2 linked regions of the Homo sapiens genome follow. The protein of the gene in region 1 purifies or fractionates together with the protein of each later gene. This does not show direct contact. Each region holds a gene or a part of one and is shown in the gene's direction. Other genes may lie near its edges.

The links. The genes of interacting proteins can lie anywhere in the genome.
Region 2: the proteins of FLT4 (region 1) and HNRNPCL2 purify together in Homo sapiens (affinity purification with mass spectrometry; one large-scale study listed by BioGRID and IntAct). This does not show direct contact.

The regions. Positions count from the first base shown.
Region 1 is NC_000005.10:180,628,969-180,632,617, reverse strand, and holds part of FLT4 (vascular endothelial growth factor receptor 3 isoform 1 precursor), read left to right. Parts: intron 1-743; coding exon of another isoform or gene 744-839; coding exon 840-936; intron 937-1,818; coding exon 1,819-2,063; intron 2,064-2,280; coding exon 2,281-2,393; intron 2,394-2,512; coding exon 2,513-2,675; intron 2,676-2,782; coding exon 2,783-2,922; intron 2,923-3,190; coding exon 3,191-3,359; intron 3,360-3,618; coding exon 3,619-3,649. UniProt on the Homo sapiens protein: Tyrosine-protein kinase that acts as a cell-surface receptor for VEGFC and VEGFD, and plays an essential role in adult lymphangiogenesis and in the development of the vascular network and the cardiovascular system during embryonic development.
Region 2 is NC_000001.11:13,114,922-13,118,437, reverse strand, and holds HNRNPCL2 (heterogeneous nuclear ribonucleoprotein C-like 2), read left to right. Parts: upstream 1-1,583; 5' UTR 1,584-1,645; intron 1,646-1,856; 5' UTR 1,857-2,037; coding exon 2,038-2,919; 3' UTR 2,920-2,950; downstream 2,951-3,516.

The DNA.
Region 1 (3,649 bases):
ACACACACACACACACACCACCTCACGGGGAGGAGGGTGTGGGGGCAGCAGGGCTGAGTCCTGCAGGACAGAAGGCCCAGCCCGGCCAGCCTACAGTCTCTGGCTGATGGTGGGTTTCAGCCAGATGAGGCGGGTTTATTTGTATGTCTGAGGAAGAGCCCTGTGAGAAGACCTGGGGGTGTCTAGGGAGGCCTGGGCAGGGAGAGCCCGGAGGAGGCTGGGGCAGCCAGCAGGGTCTGTGAGGGTGCGAGAAGCTGAGGAGCGAAAGGACACCTGTGAGGTGACACCACGTGGCCTGGGAAGGGGCGAGGCCCCTGGCAGAGAGCAGGCAGGAGGGGGCGAGGCCCCTGGCAGAGAGCAGGCAGGAGGGGGCGAGGCCTGCGTGGTTCGGGGAGGACCTGGGATGTGCGGACCCTCTGGGAAGCAGCGGGTGTAGGGCTGCAGTTCAGGAGGGAGGGCCTCAGGCAGCAGCACTGCAGGGGCCGTGATGTGGAGGTGACACACTCCAGCGCCCCTCCCCCGCTCCTTCATGCCAGCCGCTCAGCTCACCGGGGTCAGAGGTTGGGGTTAGGTCCAGGGCCGGTGTGTAGCTGAGGATGGGGGCTGTGGGGCAAGGCAGGGTGCGCCTGTGGGAGAGGTTCGTGGCTGTCTTGGCGCCTGGGAGCTGGTGCTGCTCACGGCGCACATGGTGAGGCCAGGCCACGCGGTGCTGGCTGAGAACCTGAGCTGCTCCGGCCCTGCAGGGGTCTGCGCTTGCGATGCAGAATGCCCAGCCATGCCCCATCAACGTCGTGCCAAGTCACAGCCCAGCACCACGCTGACCCTGTCTCCCACCCCAGGCCTGGTGAGTGGCTACTCCATGACCCCCCCGACCTTGAACATCACGGAGGAGTCACACGTCATCGACACCGGTGACAGCCTGTCCATCTCCTGCAGGTACTGGGTCCCTCTCCCACTGGCAGGCCAGAGAGGCTGCACAAGCCCAAGGCAGGAGGTGGTGGCTGTGGGCCCAGATGGCAGCCCCCTCCCAGGGCAGAGTCAGGGCAGAGTGGCCTCGGGGCCGTGTGGTCTCCCAGGCTGTGGGTGACTTCGGTCCTCCCCAGCCTCAACCACACACCCCCATCAGCATTTCTTTTTTTTTTTCTGAGATGGAGTCTCACTCTGTCACCCAGGCTGGAGTGCAGTGGTGCGATCTCGGCTCACTGCAAGCTCTGCCTCCCGGGTTCACGCCATTCTCCTGCCTCAGCCTCCCAAGTAGCTGGGACTACAGGTGCCCGCCACCACGCCCGGCTAATTTTTTGTATTTGTAGTAGAGACGGGGTTTCACCGTGTTAAGCAGGATGGTCTTGATCTCCTGACCTCGTAACCCACCCACCTCAGCCTCCCAAAGTGCTGGGATTACAGGCGTGAGCCACTGTGCCCAGCCCACCCCATCAGCATTTCATATGGGGCCTCATCACCCTGCACCCCACTCCTGACACCTCACACTGACCCCAGGCCACCTCCCAGGTCATCTGCATCCACTCCCAGCCACCCTGGGAGCACCCACTGGGGCCCCAGAGATGGGTACCTCCCCACCTTCCCAGCTGTGATCCAAGGCCTGTGCTTGGCCACAGGCCAGCCCCGGGAGCCTGGTAGAGGCCCGGGGGTCGGGGAGTGCCCTGCCCTGGGCACGGTCTGTAGTGTGCGCCCAAACCCTGGGCAGTTCCATGCTCTGGGTAAGACAAACCTGGTGAGGCTCGGCCTGAGGGAGGCTTCTCAGGGACAGTCCCCATGGGCTGCCCTGGGGCCCACCTGACCACTCCTGTCCTCTGCCAGGGGACAGCACCCCCTCGAGTGGGCTTGGCCAGGAGCTCAGGAGGCGCCAGCCACCGGAGACAAGGACAGCGAGGACACGGGGGTGGTGCGAGACTGCGAGGGCACAGACGCCAGGCCCTACTGCAAGGTGTTGCTGCTGCACGAGGTACATGCCAACGACACAGGCAGCTACGTCTGCTACTACAAGTACATCAAGGCACGCATCGAGGGCACCACGGCCGCCAGCTCCTACGTGTTCGTGAGAGGTGAGACTTGGAGGCGGGCCAGGCTGGAGCAGGGTCCCGGGCAGCTGGGGCCCACACCGCCCCCAGCCTGTGGACCCTGGGCTGGCAGGAGGAGAGAACGGGGCCCTACCTGCTCCAGCGGGTGGCTGGTTCAGGACCAGCACCACCCAGCCCCGTGGAGCCCTCCCCCAGCCTGGCCGCCACGTCCCTTCCCCAACAGCTTGCTCCCTCTCCATAGACTTTGAGCAGCCATTCATCAACAAGCCTGACACGCTCTTGGTCAACAGGAAGGACGCCATGTGGGTGCCCTGTCTGGTGTCCATCCCCGGCCTCAATGTCACGCTGCGCTCGGTACGGCCCCACCCCAACCCCAGCATCCGACCCTCCCATCCCACCCCTGGGAAAGGCGGCCGCCTGTCTGGCCAGGAGCAAGGGGCAGCTGGGCAATGATGGTGGCCTTGTCCCTCCAGCAAAGCTCGGTGCTGTGGCCAGACGGGCAGGAGGTGGTGTGGGATGACCGGCGGGGCATGCTCGTGTCCACGCCACTGCTGCACGATGCCCTGTACCTGCAGTGCGAGACCACCTGGGGAGACCAGGACTTCCTTTCCAACCCCTTCCTGGTGCACATCACAGGTAACAGGGCTGTGCCCCGTTCCCAGTAACGGGGCTGTCACTGCCTCACTGGCCTCAGTGGGTGTCGTCCTGTGAGGGCGTGGGAGTCACTGTGTGCGTGTCAACAGGCAACGAGCTCTATGACATCCAGCTGTTGCCCAGGAAGTCGCTGGAGCTGCTGGTAGGGGAGAAGCTGGTCCTGAACTGCACCGTGTGGGCTGAGTTTAACTCAGGTGTCACCTTTGACTGGGACTACCCAGGGAAGCAGGTGAGGTCAGCAGCGCTGCCAGGCTGTCCTGTCCCCAGGAGTCCCTGTGACTGTACAGCACACACTGGGCCTCCGCGTGGAGGATGTGTGGGCCCAGGCCTGCCCCAGGGGCCCCGGTCTGAGTGGCAAGTGTTCCACCCAAAGAAAACTCAGGGCCTGGGTCCAGGGCTTCCGGAGCCACCGCTGGCTGGGCTGGGAGGTGTGCCTTCGGTGGGGTAGCTGTGCAGGAGCCCGCCTGCTGACGCGGGGCTTCCCTGGGTGCGGGCAGGCAGAGCGGGGTAAGTGGGTGCCCGAGCGACGCTCCCAGCAGACCCACACAGAACTCTCCAGCATCCTGACCATCCACAACGTCAGCCAGCACGACCTGGGCTCGTATGTGTGCAAGGCCAACAACGGCATCCAGCGATTTCGGGAGAGCACCGAGGTCATTGTGCATGGTATGGCCTGGGAAACCAGGGTCCTTGTGCCCTGTGGGCCTGGGCCCAGAGCTCACGGTGCCCTTGAGCACTCAGGAGTCCAGCCAGAGGGAAGGGAGGGCCACGAGCAGAGGAGCTGCCCAGCTCCTGCACCGGGCGGCATGGCCAGCCCCAGTCTGCGGATGTCCGGCTGCCGGGGCTGCAGGGGCCGTGGGGGGAGTCCCTGGTCAGTCCACGACGGGTCAGTCCTGGATTTACAGTGACTTCTCCTGTCCGGCAGAAAATCCCTTCATCAGCGTCGAGTGGCTCAA
Region 2 (3,516 bases), on another chromosome or scaffold:
CCAGCTCAACCATGCCCATCCTCTACCCTCACTTCTCTTTGTAATTTTGACATGATTTTATTACAGGACCATCAGGTTCCTATGCCTGCTGCACAGTAGCTGACCAATATTCTGAGACAGCAGTGTTTGCAGCAGACAGTTTAATGATCACAGGGTGGCTAAATGAGAAGCTAGGAGGATATCCTCAAATTCATCTCCCCAAGTAGTACTGAGGGTTTCCAGTGGATCCTGGATAGCAAGGGGCTGGAAAGTTGGTGTAGAGGTAAGAGGGATGAAGTCATCAGGATGTCAAAACTGCATTCTTTGGTGAGTTGGTGCCTTGCAGAGCCCTTCAGATCAGCTGGCATCAGTAGTTTCACTGACATGCAGAACCTGAAAGAATATCTCAAATGAGAAAGTTAATGTTTTACAAGGCTTAAATTGTTGTCTGCAGGGTAGTTAAGGGGAACTGTAAGCTAAGGTCTACTTGATTTGGGGACAGTAAGCTGCCAGCAACCATGAGGAAGAAGGTCAGAGAGCAAGCTGACCTCATGGTGAATGCTGAATGCGCTGCAAGCTTGGTTTATTTTTGTTTCTCCCCCTCCCTTCTTCACTGATTAAACTTATAAAGTTTACAGGTATCATTTCAATTTCTTCCAGAGAAGACTTAACCTAAGCCCTGAGACCACTCAAGCCCTCAGTGGCACCTCTCTTCCACCAGCACGAGTGAAGAAACTGCTACCTTAGGTGATATAAAACCCACAAGACCATTCCATACATGGAGATCTTTATTCTTATTTTGTAGGGACGACTCCTCTGTGTTTATACAGCTATTTTAACTAGAAATATTTTTATAAATTTTATAATTTTGATGTGGCCAAAGATCTCCCCACAACACTACTTTCAGGTTTTATTTTTCTGTCTAATGTCTGGAACAGATCAACCCCTTCCCTGCCTCACATCAGGACTTGAAGGCGAAATAGCAGTAAAATTCCATCAGTGTTTGTGGATTTCATGAATGAATGCATTTTTTTTGACAAAATCTCCCTCTGTCGCCCAGTCAGGAGGGCAATGGTGTAATCTTGGCTCACTGCAAACTCAGCCTCCAGGGTTCAAGGGATTCTCCCACCTCAGCCGCATGAGTAACTGGACTACAGGCAGCCACCATCGTGCCTGGCTAACTTTTCTATTTTTGTAGAGACAGGGTTTCACCATGTGGGCCAGGCTGGTCTTGAACTCCTGACCTCAGGTGATCCACCTACCTTGGCCTCCCAAAGTGCTGGGATTACAAGTGTGAGCCACCTCACCTGGCCTTGAGTGAATGAATTCTTGATTTCCACTCTATCCCTAACTCTGTCAATTTCTTAATTCATAAAATGATTATGCATATGTGATATGAATGGATATCTCGTTCAATCCATTAGTCTTCGGACAGTCAAAAACCCAATCAGGATTAACTGAGTGGAGCTTCAGAAATGCAATCAGATATCGCTTTTTGATTGGAAGCTAGCAGCGGATACGTGGAGGGGCGTGGGTGGGAGTTGTGATTAGAAAGGTCAATAAAAGCTTCTAAAGACCCACAGGACAAACTCAAAGTCTTCAAGCCTGGAGTTCCTGCTTGGCTCTTCCTGAGGTCTGAGCACCTTCTAAACTACAACCAGATCTGGTAAGTCACTAATTTCTGTAAGGACACTCCCATGTGACCTACAGTCAGCCGGTCTAGAACGGTGACAGTGCAGCCTACGATGGCATAGAACTATATCATGTCTTTTTTTCTTTTTTTCATATGAACACTTTGAAGCTTTGATTTTTTTTTCTAAATGCAATTTTGTCGTGATTTCAAAAATGTTGTTGTGCTTTTCTTTACATCATTTCAGAATTCTTGTTGGCAGCCATTTTGTGAAGAGACGAAGACTGAGCTGTTTTGGCTGCATTTCTGGCCTCGAGCCGCAGTCAGTTTCTCCCCGTAGAACCCGGCAGTAGGAGACTTAGAATCGAATCTCTTCTCCCTCCCGCCTCCTGTTTTTGGCTTTTTGAGAAACCTTATCATCCAACACAATGGCCAGCAACGTTACCAACAAGATGGATCCTCACTCCGTGAACTCCCGTGTGTTCATTGGGAATCTCAACACTCTTGTTGTCAAGAAATCTGATGTGGAGGCGATCTTTTCCAAGTATGGCAAAATTGCGGGCTGCTCTGTTCATAAGGGCTTTGCCTTCGTTCAATATGATAAGGAGAAAAATGCCCGGGCTGCTGTAGCAGGAGAGGATGGCAGAATGATTGCTAGCCAGGTTGCAGTTATTAACCTGGCTGCAGAGCCAAAAGTGAACCGAGGAAACGCAGGTGTGAAACGATCCGCAGCGGAGATGTACGGCTCCTCTTTTGACTTGGACTATGGCTTTCAACGGGATTATTATGATGGGATGTACAGTTTCCCAGCACGTGTACCTCCTCCTCCTCCCATTGCTCTGGCTGTAGTGCCCTCGAAACGCCAGCGCATATCAGGAAACACCTCACGAAGGGGCAAAAGTGGCTTCAATTCTAAGAGTGGAAAGCGGGGATCTTCCAAGTCTGGAAAGCTGAAAGGAGATGACCTTCAGGCCATTAAGCAGGAGTTGACCCAGATAAAACAGAAAGTGGATTCTCTCCTGGAAAACCTGGAAAAAATTGAAAAGGAACAGAGCAAACAAGAGGTAGAGGTGAAAAATGCTAAGTCAGAAGAGGAGCAGAGCAGTAGCTCCATGAAGAAAGATGAGACTCATGTAAAGATGGAGTCTGAGGGGGGTGCAGAAGACTCTGCTGAGGAGGGGGACCCACTGGATGATGATGATAATGAAGATCAGGGGGACAACCAGCTTCATTTGATCAAGAATAATGAAAAAGATGCTGAGGAAGGAGAGGATAACAGAGACAGCACCAATGGCCAGGATGACTCTTAAGCACATAGTGGGGTTGAGAAATCTTATCCCATTGTTTCTTTACCTAGGAGCTTGTCTAACAACAAATTTTTCACCAGATCCTCTCCCTTAGTATCTTCAGCACATGCTTACTGTTCTCCCCATCCTTGTCCTTCCCACATTCATTAATTCATATTGCCCTGCGCCTAGTCCCATTTTCACTTCCCATGACACCCCTAGTAGTTTTCCTAAGTCTTACCCTGTAATTTTTGCTTTTAATTTTGACACCTCTTTATGACTTAACAGTAAAAAGGATGTATGGTTTTTATCAACTGTCTCCAAAATAATCTCTTGTTATGCAGGGAATACAGTTCTTTTCTTTCATACATAAGTTCAGTAGTTGCTTCCCTAACTGCAAAGGCAATCTCATTGAGTTGAGTAGCTCCTGAAAGCAGCTTGGAGTTACAAGTATGTGTGTTACACCCCATATTAGTGTGCTGTGTGGGGCAGTTCAACAAAAATCTAACAATGTATTTTTGTGAATGAGAGTTGGCATGTCAAATGCATCCTCAGAAACATAATTGGTGTTATAGTCTTCAAATGTGTTTTCTAAAGTTGATACCGTGGGTTATTTTTGTG